Linked DNA regions of Homo sapiens: regions 1 and 2 are each linked to region 3. The links come from fine-mapping of genetic effects on gene expression. A gene starts in region 3. Each other region holds a variant in brackets. All regions are shown on one strand. Distances are between the middles of the regions. Region 1 has its middle 16 kb from the start of PNPLA8. Region 2 has its middle 160 kb from the start of LINC02903. Region 3 holds the start of THAP5 (THAP domain containing 5).

The links. PIP is the estimated chance that this variant, and not a neighbour inherited with it, causes the effect. A credible set is the group of variants that fine-mapping cannot tell apart.
Region 1: its variant is the best candidate, but not a certain one, in a credible set for the expression of THAP5 in prefrontal cortex (GTEx, PIP 0.55).
Region 2: its variant is the best candidate, but not a certain one, in a credible set for the expression of THAP5 in substantia nigra (GTEx, PIP 0.62).

The regions. Positions count from the first base shown.
Region 1 is chr7:108,539,142-108,545,719 of GRCh38, forward strand. It overlaps a transcript of THAP5 not described here. Among named protein-coding and RNA genes, the nearest start is that of PNPLA8, 16 kb to the left of the region's middle. The variant C/T (reference allele first, on the strand shown) is at 3,134.
Region 2 is chr7:108,725,595-108,732,172 of GRCh38, forward strand. No RefSeq gene overlaps it. Among named protein-coding and RNA genes, the nearest start is that of LINC02903, 160 kb to the right of the region's middle. The variant T/G (reference allele first, on the strand shown) is at 3,017.
Region 3 is chr7:108,567,583-108,574,086 of GRCh38, forward strand. It overlaps THAP5 (THAP domain containing 5), which reads right to left and starts at 2,124. Exons shown (of 3, transcript NM_001130475.3): 1 at 1,908-2,124. The coding sequence starts at 1,987. DNAJB9 (DnaJ heat shock protein family (Hsp40) member B9) reads left to right here and starts at 2,292. Exons shown (of 3, transcript NM_012328.3): 1 at 2,292-2,521; 2 at 4,135-4,361; 3 at 5,317-6,504. The coding sequence starts at 4,145. The coding sequence ends at 5,771. RefSeq lists enhancers at 1,707-2,186, 1,720-2,447.

The sequences.
Region 1 (6,578 bases), 28 kb before region 3:
ATTAAACTGGAAGTTATGATTGCCACCTGGACACTTGGGCTCCTCCTACCTTTAAGTCAACAGGCTAAGAAGGGAGTTACAGTGTTGGCTGGGGTGATTGACCCGGACTATCAAGATGAAATCTGTCGACTACTCCACAAGGGAGGTAAGGAAGAGTACACATAGAATATAGGAGATCCATTAGGGCATCTCTTAATATTACCATGCCCTGTGATTAAGGTCAATGGGAAACTACAACAGCCCAATCCAGGCAGGACTACAAATAGCCCAGACCCTTCAGGAATGAAGGTTTGGGTCACTCCACCAGGAAAAAAACCATGACCTGCTGAGGTGCTTGCTGAAAGCAAAGGGAATACAGAATGGTGGTAGAAGAAGGTAGTTGTCAATACCAGCTACGACCACGTGACCAGCTGCAGAAACGAGGACTGCAATTGTCATGAATATTTCCTTCTTTTGTTAAAAACACGTTTATGCATGTATACACTTGTACTAAGAAAACATCTTCATTTTATTTCCTTTCTCCTTTATCATGGGACATAAGATTTATTGACTTCACATCAGCATTTAAGTATGTTAACTTTATGTAATAGTATTTGGGTTGGGGATTGATGCGTTTCTGGTTGTACAAAGAATAGTCGTATTATGTTAGGAGTAATTATGACCTTATTATTGTCTTTACTTAAAGATTATGTATGATCTCAGGAGATTTGTATGGGTTCAAGTTGACAAGGGGTGGACTTTTGATGGTTAATACTGAGTGTCAACTTGATTGGATTGGTAGATGTAAAGTATTGATCCTGGGTGTGTCTGTGAGGGTGTTGCCAAAGCCCACCCTTAATCTGGTGCATACCATCTAATCAGCTGCCAAAGCAACTAGAACATAAAGCAGGCAGAAAAACATGAAAAGACTAGACTTGCCTAGCCTCCCAGCCTACATCTTTCTCCTGTGCTGGGTGCTTCCTGCCCTGGAACATCAGACTCCCAAGTTCTTCAGTTTTGGGACTTGGACTGGCTTTCCTTGCTCCTCAGCTTGCAGATGGCCTATTGTGGAACCTTGTGATCATGTGAGTTAATACTTAATAAACTCTCCTTTATATATATATATATATATATATATATATATATATATATAGATGGATGCATGTATAGATATATATGTGTGTATATATATAATATATGTAGCTATCCTATTAGTTCTGTCCCTCTAGAGAACCCTGACTAATACAAATGCCCATTACGTATTTGTTGATAAGAGAATTAATTAATCCTCCAAGGTATGGGTGGGAGAAATAGGTTCCACAATGCATATGAATAGTCCACAACGTGGCTTTTGATCTATACATCTATTAAAAAAACCCAGTTTTTATTTTATTATAACTTTTATTGCATCACAATGCAAGTATAAGCCATAAATCAATTTAGTCTGCTCAGTGAATATCTCTATATTTTACTAGTCTCAAGTGATAAGATAGCTTTTCTACTCATTTACTGACCATGATTGCCAAATACAAGACACTCCACTAATGACATAGATTTTTGTGTATTCTGAGAAATGAACTCTAACATGGTCATGAACTTATTTAGCCATTAAAGTTTTTTTTTTATTTTCTTGTTTTTTTATTTTTTTGAGACAGAGTTTCTCTCTTGTTGCCTAGGCTGGAGTGCAATGGCGTGATCTCAGCTCACTGCAACCTCCACCTCCCAGGTTCAAGCAATTTTCCTGCCTCAGCCTCCTGAGTAGCTGGGATTAGAGGCACCTGCCACCATGCCCAACTAATTTTTTGTATTTTTAGTAGAGATGGGGTTTCACCATGTTGGCCAGGCTGGTTTTGAACTCCTGACCTCAGGCGATCCACCTGCCTTGGCCTCCCATAGTGCTGGGATTACAGGCATGAGCCACCATGCCCAGCACCATTGAGTTTTAATATATATACAATTTAGTATTTACAAGCCATTTTATTTATAAGTGTGCACTCTAGTTAATGACTTTTGTTAAGGCATTTGAAAAATACGTTGAAAATTGTTCTTTGGAGCTAAAAATAAGGCTGGAAGTTTAAGTTGTTCAAGTCAATTTCCAGTTACTCTGCTCTTTATTTTCTCTAGTAATCTGAGCAATTTGGCAACACCACTTTAGAGCTAACATGAAAAGACCTAGCTTTATAGAAGCATGGCATCCATTTGAGCCTAGTAATAATTTTTAATATGCCCCAAGGAGATGAATGTTTAATGGCAACCATTTCTATTTAAAAAAAAAAAAAAAGAATGATCATTCCTTGAGCAGAAAAGGAATCTATGAGTTTAGATATTGACTGTATTTTCTGTTGCTATACAATTATTCTGCATTAAAGAATTAAAAGGAAGATTAAAAACTCACAATAGACACATTCAATTACTTCACGTATAATTTCCAATTAAATAAGTTCTAACTAAACCAAATTAGTTGTTAGGCTTTTACCAAAAGTAATTTATGATCCAGGTGGTTTAAAAAGCGCTAGAGACTTGATTAAATTTAGCATTCTTATGTATATGCTCACTTTTGTTGTTTTGCTAATGATTCTCTGCAAAAACAGTTGCAAAGCTCAAAGTAACTTTTAAGTTGTATGGGGCTCTGTAGGCATCCAGTGAAAAGGTCTTTAATACAGCAGTAAGACAGAATTCCTCAAGAAGCAAATCCCCTGTTGCAGGTTCATTCAATCATATAAATGCATTTCAAAGCATCCTGAAATTGAGCCAGCCCATTATGTTTACCAGCTAAAACTTTACAGCTTAACCCTTAAGTTACAACTGTAATATTTCCTTATATGTGAAGATGTTTTTCTTTTCTCTTCAAGATGACATTCAATAATCTGACAGTCCTGTTCATTGCAGCACCTTGAACACAAAAATAAGTCTGAATTGGCTGAAGATCAGGAAAAAAAACCCTTAAATTCAAACAAATGTTTTGGCAAGAACTTTCATAGTTTGTCGAATTTGTATTGCTATTCTGTCACTGTGGAGGGGATAACAGAATTGCTTAGGATCTATATCTATATCTATATCTAGATTTAGATATAGATATATATTATGTAGCATGGTGGACTTGAGTGGCATTTTTCCAGGTTCTTTCCCAACTAATTTGTAATATCACAAATGT[C/T]TATAAGGCTAGATGGTAAAGATGTTTGCCTCCATTTATAAAATAATCATGGCACTCAGGTTATCTTTTTCTGCATAACAATCCTGAAACTTAGTAGTTGAAAAAAACAAGCATTTTATTATATTTCACAATTTCCCTGGTCAGATATTTAGGCATGGCTTGGCATCTTCTGTTTCTTTTTTTTGTTTGTTTTGTTTTGTTTTTGGAGACAGAGTTTTGCTCTTGGTGCCCAGGCTGGAGTGCAGTGGCACGATCTCGGCTCACTGTAACCTCCACCTCCTGGGTTCAAGCGATTCTCCTGCCTCAGCCTCCTGAGTAGCTGGAATTACAGGCATGTGCCACCACGCCCAGCTAATTTTTGTTTTATTGGTAGAGACAGGGTTTCACCACATTGGCCAGTCTGGTCTGTAACTCCTGACCTCAAGTGATCCATCTGCCTCGGCCTCTCAAAGTGCTGGGATTACAGGCGTGAGCCACTGTGCCTGGCCAAGCATCTTCTGTTTCATATGGCATTGACTGAAGTCACTTAGTGGCATTCAGCTGGCAGATGGGCTGGTCTGGAGAATTCAAAATGGCTTCCCTTACATATCTGGTGCCTTGGTGGGAATGGCTAGAAGACTAGGCTCAAAACTTTTTTTTTTAAATTTAATTTATTTTATTTTATTTTTTTGAGATGGAGTCTCGCTTTGTCACCCAGGCTGGAGTGCAGTGGCACGATCTCGGCTCATTGGAACCTCCGTCTCCCAGGTTCAAGCAATTCGCCTGCCTGAGCCTCCCGAGTAGGTGGGATTACAGGTGCCTGTCACCACGCCCGGCTAATTTTTTTGTATTTTTAGTAGAGACTGAGTTTCACCGTATTAGCCAGGATTGTCTCGATCTCCTGACCTCATGATCCGCCCGCCTCAGCCTCCCAAAGTGCTGGGATTACCTGTGTGAGCCACTGTGCCCAGCCAGCTCAAAACAATTGACTGGAACAGTATCACAGGGCTTCCAGAGCATGGTGAGCTCAGGGTTGTCTGACTTCTTATATAGCAAATTGCTTTCCCAAGAATGAGTGTTGCAAGAGGCCCAGGCAGAAGCTGCAAGGCTTTTTATGAGCTAGGTTTGGGAGCCCTAGAACATCAAGCAAGTCACTAAGGCCAGTCCGGATTCAAGAGAAGGGAAGAATAGGTTCTGCCCTCTATCTCTTGATGGAGTAAGGCATGCTTAGCCAGGAAGAAAAGAAGTTGATGGTGATCATCTGCCATCACGATGGTACTACAAACATCACAACTAGGGACTGATGATAAGCAGTCTATCACCAAATGATTACTTTCCAAGAGAAAGTCGTCTTTAAAATGTTGCAATTTGCAGTAGCTGTGATCTTCAGTTTTGCATATCTAGGTCTGAAATATCTCCCAGTATTTTTTATTGCTATACTAAATTGTTCCAGCCAAGGATATCCAAGACCTATGTGATCAGGATTTTCCTGGGTTGGCCCTATTTTTTTTATCCCAGTGATAGTTTTGACCATCTGGCATGCAAAATTTTGTGGGATATTTAGGTAAACATACACATAGGTAAACACAATGTATTGCACATCAGAAGTTAACAGCAAATCATGCCAGTTTGAGCTAGGAAGTTATACAAGTCACCACTGGGACCTCATTTTCCTATATATAATGGGGGGTAGGCTGGGCTAAAATATAAAAAAAATTATGAACGACTATATGCCAATAAATTTGACAACTTAGATGAAATGGATAGTCTTTGAAAAATATAACTTACCAAAACTAACACAAGATCAAAAAGAAATTCTGAATAATCTTTTTTCTATTAAAGTAATTGCATTTGTTTTCAAAAACTTCTCCACAAAGAAAATTCTAAGCCTAAGTGATTTTCCTGATGAAGTCTACTAAACATTTAAGGAAGAAAAGGAGACAATTCATGGTCCAAACTGTCAATAATCTTCTAAATAAAGAAGGACATTGGGCCAGGGACGCTGGTTTACATCTGTAATCCCAGCACTTTGGGAGGCCGAGGCGGGTGGATCACCTCAGGTCAGTCAGGAGTTCAAGATCAGCCTGGCCAACATGGTGAAACCCCATCTCTACTAAAAATACAAAAATTAGCTGGGCATGGTGGCAGGCGCCTGTAATCCCAGCTACTCAGGAGGCCAAGGCAAGAGAATTGCTTGAACCTGGGAGGCAGAGGTTGCAGAGAGCCGAGATCGCGCCACTGCACTCCAGCCTGGGTGACAGAGCAAGACTCCATCTCAAAAAAAAAACAAAAACAAAAACAAAGAAGGTCATTGATATAGAATAGGTAAACAACAACAACAACATATGGGGAGTAAAAAACGCTTATGAAACAAACTCTCCATAAATTCTTTAGTAATTAATTAATTAATTAATTAATTATGAGACAGGGTCTCACTCTGTCACCCAGGCTGGAGTAGCAGAGGTGCAATCTCAGCTCACTACAACTTCTGCCTCTTGGGCTTAAGCAATTCTCCTGCCTCAGCCTCCTGAATAACTGGGGCTACAGGGGCACATCACCATGCCCAGCTAATTTTTGTAATTTTTTATAGAGACGGGGTTTCATCATGTTGCCCAGGCTGGTCTTGAACTCCTGGGCTCAAGCAGTCTGCTAGTCCCAAAGTGCTGGGATTACAGGCATGAGCCACTACGCCTGGCCTAGATTCTCTGTAAATTCCACACTTGAAATGCAGTAATGCAAGTTTAGAAGGAAGAGGCAATCAAAGGAAACTAGTAGAGATATTTTCAGAAAAAAAATAAATTATATTTAGTTTTATTTTTGTCTTATTTAGAAAGATATAGATTGCTATAGTTTGTTGAATTTGAGGCTACCTTTTTAAAAATAGACACACTGCCAAGAATGACAAAAACAGTTGGATTGCTCCATAAAATGAATTGATATAAGATTTAAAAAGACCAGTAAATGAAGCATAGCATTATTAATATTACTATGTAGTGTTAAGAATGTCTATACTGTTTTTAAAGTGTAGTGAAAGTGACTTTTCATGTCTAATAGATTAGTATAGTTCCCAGAACAATTGTAAACCGCAAATTTTTGTTATTTTGAGGGAGTTGGCAGCAAAACATTCCACAGCATTAAGATAGAATGGCAGCTTCTAAGTCTCAAGTGACAATTTGCTGTCAGTTCCATTGTGAAAAGCGTGACTAGTTCAAATATTTACAGACAATTTTAGGAATAATATATCTGTGAAGATAGAGAATAAATTTAGGTAGAGCTTAAGCTTCATAGAATAAAATCCTAATCAAGAGATAAGTCATTCAAGATGAAGATAATTGTCTAGAAAAATATCTATTTAGAAAAATATCAAAGTCTTGACTTAAAAATTCAATTTAGAATTTAGATAATTCCAACATAAGGAAGATTTAGGAGTGGCTGATAGATCACCTTTTGTACTGTTGGGTTATTA
Region 2 (6,578 bases), 160 kb after region 3:
GACTTATTTTACTCCATTACTAAGGCAATTCTCTTTTGAGTACTCTACCAGAGACTCTAACCATTATGAATTTTTCAATCTGGCTGTTATCCTTGTCTTGTATGAGCTTCAGGATAAAGAAGATAAGGACTGAGAAAACAAGGTCAATACCTCATAAAAGCAAAACCAAGAAAGAACTCTTAAAAACTAAGGATATTATTTCAAAACTAACAACAAGAACATGGTAAATAGGTCAGATATTAAAGTCAAAGAGTAGAGCAGAAAATCTCCCAGAATAGAAAGAGCAAGATATAGAATATGAGCGAGAGAGAGAGAGAGAGAGAGAGAGAGAGAGAGAGAGAGAGAGAGAGGCATAGACGATCACTGTAGGAAGATGGTTCTTCTTTCTGCCTTTGGTAGTTTCTTCACACAAATGCATGGATCAGGACTCATTTGATGACCTGAGACAAATCCTCTGCAGATATCTGGATTTCTGTCTTTGTGCAGCAATCTCTTCCCCTCTACTCTGCCTTGCACACTCTAATTGCCCTCCCCGCCTTGGTTTCTCAACTCTATGTCCTTAACTTAAGGAGATTGTTGGGATCCCTCTGGGTTCTTCTCCATTCATCCTGGACACTTTTACAGGCCCTTTATTTCCCTTCTTGTGTAGAGCACTGTCTTATACCACCTGATGTCCAATGTCTAACAACCATTGTCTTCATATATTTTTTTCCCAGTGTTCTAGGCATGAAGATAAATTTGGCCCATTACTTCATCTTGGCCAGATGTTGAAATCCCTAGATATTATTTTCTATCCTGATTGTCTTTGGTTATTTAGCTTAGTGTCAAGAACCGTGCCCTGCTCGCAAACTAACGAGTAAGTCTGCCACAGTTACAGTGCTGGCAGAAGACATGAGACATCTAGATCAGAGAAAAAGGATATCTTGTTCATGGCACAGCAAAGAGCTTGAGCTTCATGTCCCATTTGTTCCTCTTGTCCTCCAAGTCCTATGAGGATATGTGGAGTGGCCTAGATGAATGGTGTGCACACAGTGGGTCTGCATCACAGCTGAGGATCCCTGGGCTCCAGTCTTATAAAGAAACTTCTGGCCAATTTGCCAAAACTTTGTTCTGAAAGGAGACTTAAAAAATTATTCTGGTCACTAAAAAACATTCTGCTCTCTGCCCCAGAGGGAGACACTATCTTTAACTTCCAATATGTTCACTATATAATCATTCTTGGGAAAGATAGTCTGGATGAAAACTGTCACAAGACATGTTGAACCTCTCTGGAGAATAGCTCCTCAACACTAAGCTTTAAAAATGAACTGGCTGAGGTCTTTTGGACTGTGGTTACTTCAACTACTTTATTTATTTATTTTATTTTATTATTATTATACTTTAAGTTTTAGGATACATGTGCAGAATGTGCAGGTTTGTTACATATGTATACATGTGCCATGTTGGTGTGCTGCACCCATTAACTCGTCATTTAGCATTACGTATATCTCCTAATGCTACCCCTCCCCCCTTTCCCCCACCCCACAACAGTCCCCAGAGTGTGATGTTCCCCTTCCTGTGTCCATATGTTCTCGTTGTTCAATTCCCACCTATGAGTGAGAACATGCGGTGTTTGGTTTTTTGTCCTCGCGATAGTTTGCTGAGAATGATGGTTTCCAGTTTCATCCATGTCCCTACAAAGGACATGAACTCATCATTTTTATGGCTGTATAGTATTCCATGGTGTATATGTGCCACATTTTCTTAATCCAGTCCATTGCTGTTGGACATTTGAGTTGGTTCCAAGTCTTTGCTATTGTGAATAGTGCCACAATAAACATACATGTGCATGTGTCATTATAGCAGCATGATTTATAGTCCTTTGGGTATATACCCAGTGATGGGATTGCTGGGTCAAATGGTATTTCTAGTTCTAGATCCCTGAGGAATCACCACACTGACTTCCACAATGGTTGAACTAGTTTACAGTCCCACCAACAGTGTAAAATTGTTCCTATTTCTCCACATCCTCTCCAGCAGCTGTTGTTTCCTGACTTTTTAATGATCGCCATTCTAACTGGTGTGAGATGGTATCTCATTGTGGTTTTGATTTGCATTTCTCTGATGGCCAGTGATGATGAGCATTTTTTCATGTGTTTTTTGGCTGCATAAATGTCTTCTTTTGAGAAGTGTCTGTTCATATCCTTCAACCACTTGTTGATGGGGTTGTTTGTTTTTTTCTTGTAAATTTGTTTGAGTTCATTGTAGATTCTGGATATTAGCCCTTTGTCAGATGAGTAGGTTGCGAAAATTTTCTCCCATTTTGTAGGTTGCCTGTTCACTCTGATGGTAGTTTCTTTTGCTGTGCAGATGCTCTTCAGTTTAATTAGATCCCATTTGTCAATTTTGGCTTTTGTTGCCATTGCTTTTGGTGTTTTAGACATGAAATCCTTGCCCATGCCTATGTCCTGAATGGTATTGCCTAGGTTTTCTTCTAGGATTTTTATGGTTTTAGGTCTAACATGTAAGTCTTTAATCCATCTTGAATTAATTTTTGTATAAGGTGCAAGGAAGGGATCCAGTTTCAGCTTCCTACGTATGGCTAGCCAGTTTTCCCAGCACCGTTTATTAAATAGGGAATCCTTTCCCCATTGCTTGTTTTTGTCAGGTTTGTCAAAGATCAGATGGTTGTAGATATGTGGCATTATTTCTGAGGGCTCTGTTCTGTTCCATTAACCTATATCTCTGTTTTGGTACCAGTACAATGCTGTTTTGGTTACTGTAGCCTTGTAGTATAGTTTGAAGTCAGGTAGCATGATGCCTCCAGCTTTATTCTTTTGGCTTAGGATTGACTTGGCAATGCGGGCTCTTTTTTGGTTCCATATGAACTTTAAAGTAGTTTTCTCCAATTCTGTGAAGAAAGTCATTCGTAGCTTGATGGGGATGGCATTGAATCTATAAATTACCTTGGGCAGTATGGCCATTTTCACGATATTGATTCTTCCTACCCATGAGCATGGAATGTTCTTCCATTTGT[T/G]TGTATCCTCTTTTATTTCCTTGAGCAGTGGTTTGTAGTTCTCCTTGAAGAAGTCCTTCACATCCCTTGTAAGATGGATTCCTAGGTATTTGATTCTCTTTGAAGCAATTGTGAATGGGAGTTCACTCATGATTTGGCTCTCTGTTTGTCTATTAGGTATATAAGAATGCTTGTGATTTTTGTACATTGATTTTGTATCCTGAGACTTTGCTGAAGTTGCTTATCAGCTTAAGGAGATTTTGGGCTGAGACAAGGGGTTTTCTAGATATACAATCATGTCATCTGCAAACAGGGACAATTTGACTTTCTCTTTTCCTAATTGAATACCCTTTATTTCCTTCTCCTGCCTAATTGCCCTGTCCAGAACTTCCAACACTATGTTGACTAGGAGTGATGAGAGAGGGCATCCCTGTCTTGTGCCAGTTTTCAAAGGGAATGCTTCCCGTTTTTGCCCATTCAGTATGATATTGGCTGTGGGTTTGTCATAGATAGCACTTATTCTTTTGAGATACGTCCCATCAATACCTAATTTATTGAGAGTTTTTAGCATGAAGGGTTGTTGAATTTTGTCAAAGGCCTTTTCTGCATCTATTGAGATAATGATGTGGTTTTTGTCTTTGGTTCTGTTTATATACTGGATTACATTTATTGATTTGTGTATGTTGAACCAGACTTGCATCCTAGGGATGAAGCCCACTCGATTATGGTGGATAAGCTTTTTGATGTGCTGCTGGATTCAAATGCTGAGAGATTTTGTCACCACCAGGCCTGCCCTAAAAGAGCTCCTGAAGGAAGCACTAAACATGGAAAGGAACAACCGGTACCAGCCACTGCAAAAACATGACAAAATGTAAAGACCATCAAGGCTAGGAAGATACTGCATCAACTAACGAGCAAAATAACCAGCTAACATCATAATGACAGGACCAAATTCACACATAATATATTAACTTTAAATGTAAATGGGCTAAATGCTCCAATTAAAAGACACAGACTGGCAAATTGGATAAAGAATCAAGACCCATCAGTGTGCTGTATTCAGATACCCATCTCACATGCAAAGAAACACATAGGCTCAAAATAAAGGGATGCAGGAAGATCTACCAAGCAAATGGAAAACAAAAAAAGGCAGGGGTTTCAATCCTAGTCTCTGATAAAACAGACTTTAAACCAACAAAGATCAAAAGAGACAAGGCTATTACATACTGGTAAAGGGATCAATTCAACAAGAAGAGCTAACTATCCTAAATATATATGCACCCAATACAGGAGCACCCAGATTCATAAAGCAAGTCCTGAGTGACCTACAGAAAGACTTAGACTCCCACACAATAATAATGGGAGACTTTAACACCCCACTGTCAACATTAGACAGATCAACGAGACAGAAAGTTAACAAGGATACCCAGGAATTGAACTCAGCTCTGCACCAAGCGGACCTAATAGACATCTACAGAACTCTCCACCCCAAATCAACAGAATATACATTTTTTTCAGCACCACACCACACCTATTCCAAAATTGACCACATAGTTGGAAGTAAAGCGCTCCTCAGCAAATGTAAAAGAACAAAAATTATAACAAACTGTCTCTCAGACCACAGTGCAATCAAACTAGAACTCAGGATTAAGAAACTCACTCAAAACTGCTCCACTACATGGAAACTGAACAACCTGCTCCTGAATGACTACTGGGTATGTAACGAAATGAAGGCAGAAATAAAGATGTTCTTTGAAACCAACGAGAACAAAGACAAAACATACCAGAATCTCTGGGACACATTCAAAGCAGTGTGTAGAGGGAAATTTATAGCACTAAATGCCCACAAGAGAAAGCAGGAAAGATCCAAAATTGACACCCTAACATCACAATTAAAAGAACTAGAAAAGCAAGAGCAAACACATTCAAAAGCTAGCAGAAGGCAAGAAATAACTAAAATCAGAGCAGAACTGAAGGAAATGGAGACACAAAAAACCCTTCAAAAAATTAATGAATCCAGGAGCTGGTTTTTTGAAAAGATCAACAAAATTGATAGACCGCTAGCAAGACTAATAAAGAAGAAAAGAGAGAAGAATCAAATAGATGCAATAAAAAATAATAAAGGGGATATTACCACTGATCCCACAGAAATAGAAACTACCATCAGAGAATACTACAAGCACCTCTACACAAATAAACTAGAAAATCTAGAAGAAATGGATAAATTCCTTGACACATACACCCTCCCAAGACTAAACCAGGAAGAAGTTGAATCTCTGAATAGACCAATAACAGGCTCTGAAGTTGTGGCAATAATCAATAGCTTACCAACCAAAAAAAGTCCAGGACCAGATGGATTCACAGCCGAATTCCATCAGAGGTACAAGGAGAAGCTGGTACCATTCCTTCTGAAACTATTCCAATCAATAGAAAAAGAGGGAATCCTCCCTAACTCATTTTATGAGGCCAGCATCATCCTGATATCAAAGCTGGGCAGAGACACAACCAAAAAAGATAATTTTAGACCAATATCCTTGATGAACATGGATGCAAAAATCCTCAATAAAATACTGGCAAATCAACTACTTTTTTAAAATCAGGTATCGAGGGATGCAATTACTTATGCAGGATATCTTTAAATAAGGGCCAGACTCAGTTTGACAATGAACAGCATTTAGAACACACACATTGATTACTTACCATTTATTCAATTTTAACAAATAGGATGCATTATAACCATTGGAAAGCACTAAAGTTACTTACTTTTTCAAGGTAAATGACCAAGCAAAGTAGGATTCTGCTTTTTGAAGTTAATCTCAACTTCAATATAGGCAAATATTCACAGTGTAGATTCACATATGGTAAGTTATTGAAATTCAGTAAGGTATATTGATACTGTTGAGCACAAAAAAATGATCATTTCCAATTTAAATGTTATGTGTCTTGTCATCAGGCCGGGCCTGTGCTAAAATTGAGAGGTAAGGCTGGGAGAGAGAAGGCTGCCAAAGTGCAGTGAGAATCTTGTCCTTTCATTGGAGAATTTCTTGGGCTTTGATAACATTTCTCATGTGTTGTCTGAAAGAAGCAATTCTAATTATGTGTAACAAAAAGTAGATATGTCATAGTTAGATTTGATTAAAGAAACAAAGCTGATAATATTGACTTCATTATTTGGCAAAGTCCCATAGGAAACTAGAACTATTAGGCAAAACTATCTGGAAATGTCATAAGCATGTCAATAGAAGTCATTCAAAGGCTTAGTCAGCTCATATAACTGTTTAGACACATTGCATTCTCTGAGGTGGGTCTTATCAGGTATTCAAGAAAGGCTCAGGACAGATGTGGAGATATCTTGCCTGTTGTATGGTTTTGTGCTAGAAAGAATGAGAAGGGCTAATATTTGCAAATGACTTTGAGAGTAAGTTTCTGTCTCACCTGTAAATGTCTCTAAAGCTTTTTCTGGATGTCCTGGAAAAGTTTGTAAGTTCCCATCAGCCAGGGCTTCTTGCATTGGGGAATGCAGACACAACAGGACACATCAGGAAGCCTGTGAATCTGTAAAATTTGGTGTGGTTGGATGTGT
Region 3 (6,504 bases):
ATATTGGTTCAATTCATTTGATAATTTTGTTTCATTGTCTTATGTAATTCCCCAAAAGGCATAAGATAATCACAGTACAAACTGGACACTATATTAACTGAATTCCCAAATTCATATACATTTAAACTACAGTTTGCTGTAGTGTTAACATGAGCAAATTCAATTCAAGTTTGACGCTACTGGAGAATAAAACTAATTCAATTTTTATTTTGTGGATTACACAAGAAAATTTTTTAAAAACCCTAGAAATAATACAACTTTTACTAAATTCACATTTTCAGTGAAAAAAATCTTTACAATTCACTTGCATTATTTTTTCCTTCCTAAAAAGTTACTGTAAGGTCCACAAAGTTTAGTTAAAAATTTCAGTGTGGGGTTATACCCCATCTCCAATATCAAAGGCCAAATAAATCTGGGAAATACGGGGTTAAATCAAGTTCAACATGATCTTTTGCTACAAACATTCTCAGAGATAGAGCCATTAGTACAGTAGTATTTCCCTATAAACTGAAAGTGGATTAGATTGTTTTCCTCCCCCAAACATCTCTTTGCATCTTGAGGCTGGGCTTCAAGGGAGACAATCCTGGAAATATTGCCATGGATTGTGAATTACTTGGGGTTATCAGTTTTTTTTTCTTTTGAGACGGAGTTTCGCTCTTGTTGCTCAGGCTGTGGTGCAATGGTGTGATCTCGGCTCACCTCAACCTCCACCTCCCAGGTTCAAGCGATTCACCTGCCTCAGCCTCCCGAGCAGCTGAGATCACAGGCATGCGCCGCCACGCGCAGCTAATTTTGTATTTTTAGTACAGACGGGGTTTCTCCATGTTGGTCAGGCTGGTCTCAGACTGCCGACCTCAGGTGATCTGCCCGCCTCAGCCTCCCAAAGTGCTGGGATTACAGGCGTGAGCCACCGCGCCTGGTGGGGTTATCAATTTTTTTTCCATTAATTAAAATACTGGAAAGCAGCCGAATCATTAATGAATAAGTCCTTCAGGTCTAAAGTAAAATGAGCACAAAACAACTGCTGAAAATCTGAACCAGGTTAGATCTAAATGAATTGTTTTTAAATACAAGAAAAAATGGAAATGCAGTATTTTAAATATGTTGCTTTTCATGTGTTATTAATCATGTGAGTACTATTAACATCTCCATGTTACAGATGAGATATGTGAGACACCAAAGCTTAAATACTTTCCAAGAGGTCATTAAGCTACAGAATAGTGGAACCAGGATCTAGCATTGAAGCCTGGACCCCTAATTATTATACGACACTGCTTGTCTGTACTTCTGAATAAAAATCAGTGCTTCAGTAGTTTGATGGAAATATATCGTGGCTCTAGTAATTCAGAGTAACAGAATAAAACCTTGTTCTCCGCAGAGTATCTACAGCCCTAAGCAGAAGACTAGTTTATAATTCTGGCTCTGACACTAAACTTTCAAGGTCGGTTACCTAATCATTCCGGGCCTCAGTTTCCTCAGGAGAAAAGTGGGATGAAATTATACCTATGCGACCTACCTCGCGGGGGGTGTAAATTAACTTTGCGTGCACCTTTCCACTTCGCAGGTTTCACGTATCTTAAATGGTGGTTAATGTTGTTCAATGAAATGAGATCACGTGAAGTGGGGAAAAGACTGAAAACCACAGAAGCCCGCGCAAACTTTACTGTTTTAACTGTTAACACCCAAACAGGCTCCTGGGCCTCGCCACCAGCCAGCAGTCCTCGCGCAAGAAGGGCATTGCTAGCTAAACTGAACTAGCGCCTTCCCTCCGTCTTGCCGCGGGCGACGGGCCACGTACGGAGAGCTGAGGACTCACTGGCAGAGCGGACAGGAGACACCCAAGCCCAAAGGCCACAGGTCCAAGGCCTCACGGCGAGGCTGACGCTTCTGCTCCAGAAACAACTTACGGATAAAAACTCAGCTTCCGGTCTTTATTGTTTCGTCCCCGGCGGTTCTTACAACAAATCGCTGCGCAATAGCGGGGCATGACTCGGGTGAGGCCCCTGGAGACCGGGGCCGGCGACGGATGCAGGGCGGCCCTCCTCACTGAGGATGCGCCACAGGTCCAGGCCTCTCGAGCCCCTGCGCCTGCGCTAGCATTCTGCCGGGAAAGCCGCCTCGTCTGTCGACTCACTTCCGCCTCCTCCGGTTTAAGCACCGCCTTTTCGGGGGTTGAAGCCGGAAGTGGCGCACAGCCCTAGCAGCAACAACAGTTTTCCACGTGCGCGTAGGGCGCCGGGATCACGTGGGGAGGCAGAAGCCAATGGGGAAGCGTTTCGTGTAGGTCTTCTGAGGTGGTGGCGCCAGCGGCTACCTCCTGCCTGTGAGGAGCTGGCTGAGAGGGGACTGGGCGCCGGCGGGGAAGGAGGAGCGCTAGGTCGGTGTACGACCGAGATTAGGGTGCGTGCCAGCTCCGGGAGGCCGCGGTGAGGGGCCGGGCCCAAGCTGCCGACCCGAGCCGATCGTCAGGGTCGCCAGCGCCTCAGCTCTGTGGAGGAGCAGCAGTAGTCGGAGGGTGCAGGTGAGGGACGAGGCCGGGGTCGTGGGGAGGGGAGTTCGGAGGGTCCCCGTAGCCCAGGCCTGTCTTTGTGAGCTGACTTGGCCTCGGTGTCCGCCACGGTCGCCGCAGGGACAATGGGCTGCATGTTTTTGGCCGAGAGAATGGAAGAACGGAGACAGCCGCATCACAGAATCGTGTTTTGGGTTGTGGCGCCGGCTTTCACGGGCGCCGGATTAGAGCCCGGGTCTCGGGCAGCTTCTGCGGCGGGGCCTGGGCGGGCAGGGAAAGTGCCAGTCGCCTTTAGGTGAAGGTTGGAGGGTCTAGCCCAGCCGCCCACCGAGGCTGGGGAATAAGGCACGGGCTGCTGGCTGGCGGGGCCGTCTTGGGGATGAGAAGTCTGTACAATACAAAACTAGTCTGCTAAAAAAAAATCATTAGATGTCCACCTTGAGACCGTGGAATAACGTCTGCTGAACCAGTGAGGCGCCTCCCTGTCAGTTTTAGATCCGCCCTTTGACTAGGGAGCAACCTGCAGTTGACGCAGCGTCCATGGGACACACTGTTGTGTTCCTTAAACCGAGAAGTGGTTCTTGATTCTTGGTACCCGTGACTACGAGTAACTCTCTGGAAATAAGTAATCTACCTGCCTGCTAATTACTCTCAGGAAAGGCCGCTGGAGAGGAAGCCAGGCAATTTCCACAAACCGTAGTGTTTTTCGTCAGCCTTATTATGGCATTATAGGTTACTAAGGACTCTGGTGGTCCCGTATTCAAAAAACAGGATCCATCCCTTCGTTTTGAATCTCAAGTCATTGAATACATATTGTCAAGAATTCTAAGTTAACATTTCTTTAATGGTTTAAAGGTAAAAGAAATATTTTAACTACTGAGTTTGTGAAAGTAAGAATCTGCCTTAACCACAGTACAAACTATCAAAGTTCATTTTTCTGGCAGCTTTAGCAGAAATCTTAAATTCTGTTCATCATGAGTTTTAAACAATATTTAGCCATGCTTCCTGGTTAAACATTTGGGATCTTACATTTGGGAAAAAGACAACATTCTATTGTATTGTCAGTATTAGTATTGTGATATTAAGATTCTCTATTTGCAGTCCTTGGCTCACCTGCTGAAATGAAAGCTGAATTTTTGGAGCGAGATTAATAATACTAATTTAGATATACTGGGCTATTTACCTTGGTGCGCCACCTTTTTTTTTTAATGTTTTTTTTTTCTGTGAAGTTAAATACATTATTACTTTCAGGATATGAAGTCTTGAAAGGAAAGTTGGGATCTTATATTATTTGGTTTTCTTTTTTTTTCTTACAATGCTTGCATATGATGAATCTTCAATATAAACTGGTTAAAAGTCAGTTATTGATAATTTTCTATCTCCTCTGTGTATGGCCAGAGTATTAGTAGACAGACAAAGCCAAGAATTATTTTTGTTCTCAATAAGGTTAAGCCAGTTTGAGAGTTATAAAACTAAAAGTGAAATTACATGTGGACAGGTAATAGATACTGTATGCTTACTATTTTGATACTGCATTAGGTTTACCTTGTGTTGGATTTCTTTTAAAAGAAAAACGTTTTAAGATTAGCTCCATCCATAACATTTTTTTTTCTTTTCTGTTTTAGGATATTAGAAATGGCTACTCCCCAGTCAATTTTCATCTTTGCAATCTGCATTTTAATGATAACAGAATTAATTCTGGCCTCAAAAAGCTACTATGATATCTTAGGTGTGCCAAAATCGGCATCAGAGCGCCAAATCAAGAAGGCCTTTCACAAGTTGGCCATGAAGTACCACCCTGACAAAAATAAGAGCCCGGATGCTGAAGCAAAATTCAGAGAGATTGCAGAAGGTAAATAAATGACAATCTCTGAAGTGTCATGGGTATTAACTAGTAAGGAGAATGATAGCTAAGAAGTGTTTGTATTTGAAGGTTTTGTGGAGATGGGAGGTGGAGTGGGATTTATGTATAAATATTGGGTGATTCTCTGAGATTATTTTCTTATCACAGATGCTTTGATTCCTGAATAAATATATGAAAGAATAATAGATAATTTTATTGGTATACGTATCTAAAAATATTGAAAATCTATTCTATATTATTTATAAGATCACTGTTGCTTCTATGACAAAAAAGAATTTTAGGTACCCAAAATTCTTATCAACTAACTTATGAAACAGAATATTTTACATTTTAAACATTAAAGACTTAAAAATTAAACTAGACTCTAAAGTGCTTTATTCACTTGATCTGCTTTTCAAAGCCATATTTGTCTTCAAAGAAAAAATTGGAACAAATTTTGACTTCAGACTAGCTCTAAAACAAATTGCACCTGCTGAGCATTCAGTAATTATTGTTGGATGGAGGTAACTGAGTAGGGAGTTAGAATTAAACAGTTTACTTTAGTAAGGAGGTGCAAAATCTTAATTCCTATTAATTGGTTATAGTTGATGGTTTAATTTTTTAATACAATTAATGATTTCACACGAATAATATGAAGATTAAAGAACTCTGATTGTTGCCCACATGTTTATTTGTAGTAATGGTAACATTTAATAACTTTATTGAGTATTGCAGATGGCATTGTGCCAACTGCTGATAACTCAGCAGTTAATAAGACAGTTTCTGCTTTATTTTATAATTTTGATTAACTTGATGCTTATATTTGTAGTGTTTTGCTTTTATTTCTGATGCGAAATTCTTCCCTAAAATAATAGTATTCAGTTCACTTGCTTGAAGAGATTTGAATATATGTAATTTTGAATATTTTACCTTCAGTTACTAAAAATATTTTTGTCACTTTCAGCATATGAAACACTCTCAGATGCTAATAGACGAAAAGAGTATGATACACTTGGACACAGTGCTTTTACTAGTGGTAAAGGACAAAGAGGTAGTGGAAGTTCTTTTGAGCAGTCATTTAACTTCAATTTTGATGACTTATTTAAAGACTTTGGCTTTTTTGGTCAAAACCAAAACACTGGATCCAAGAAGCGTTTTGAAAATCATTTCCAGACACGCCAGGATGGTGGTTCCAGTAGACAAAGGCATCATTTCCAAGAATTTTCTTTTGGAGGTGGATTATTTGATGACATGTTTGAAGATATGGAGAAAATGTTTTCTTTTAGTGGTTTTGACTCTACCAATCAGCATACAGTACAGACTGAAAATAGATTTCATGGATCTAGCAAGCACTGCAGGACTGTCACTCAACGAAGAGGAAATATGGTTACTACATACACTGACTGTTCAGGACAGTAGTTCTTATTCTATTCTCACTAAATCCAACTGGTTGACTCTTCCTCATTATCTTTGATGCTAAACAATTTTCTGTGAACTATTTTGACAAGTGCATGATTTCACTTTAAACAATTTGATATAGCTATTAAATATATTTAAGGGTTTTTTTTTTTTGACAAATTCAACATTCAACGAGTAGACAAAATGCTAATTATTTCCCTGATTAGGAAAGTTTCTTTAAAAAACACGTAATTTTGCCTAGTGCTTTTTCTCTACCTGCCCTTGGGCTCACTAATATCACCAGTATTATTACCAAGAAAATATTGAGTTTACCTGATTAAACTTTAAAAGTTAATTGTAGATTTAAATTGTGTGAACCTAATGATTTTTGCAGTGAAACCTTTACTAATTCAAAGTTGCATGTTCTATGACATCTGTGACTTGCGTTGCAGAGTGTACATGAAACTGTATAATTGAGTCATTCAGTAAAGGAGAACAGTATCTTGGTTAATTGCTACTGAAAGGTTGAGAAAGGAATGGTTTGATATTTACCACAGCGCTGTGCCTTTCTACAGTAGAACTGGGGTAAAGGAAATGGTTTTATTGCCCATAGTCATTTAGGCTGGAAAAAAGTTGAAAACTTAACGAAATATTGCCAAGAGATTGTTATGTGTTTGGTTCCAGCCTAAAAATGATTTTGTAGTGTTGAAATCATAGCTACTTACATAGCTTTTTCATATTTCTTTCTTAGTTG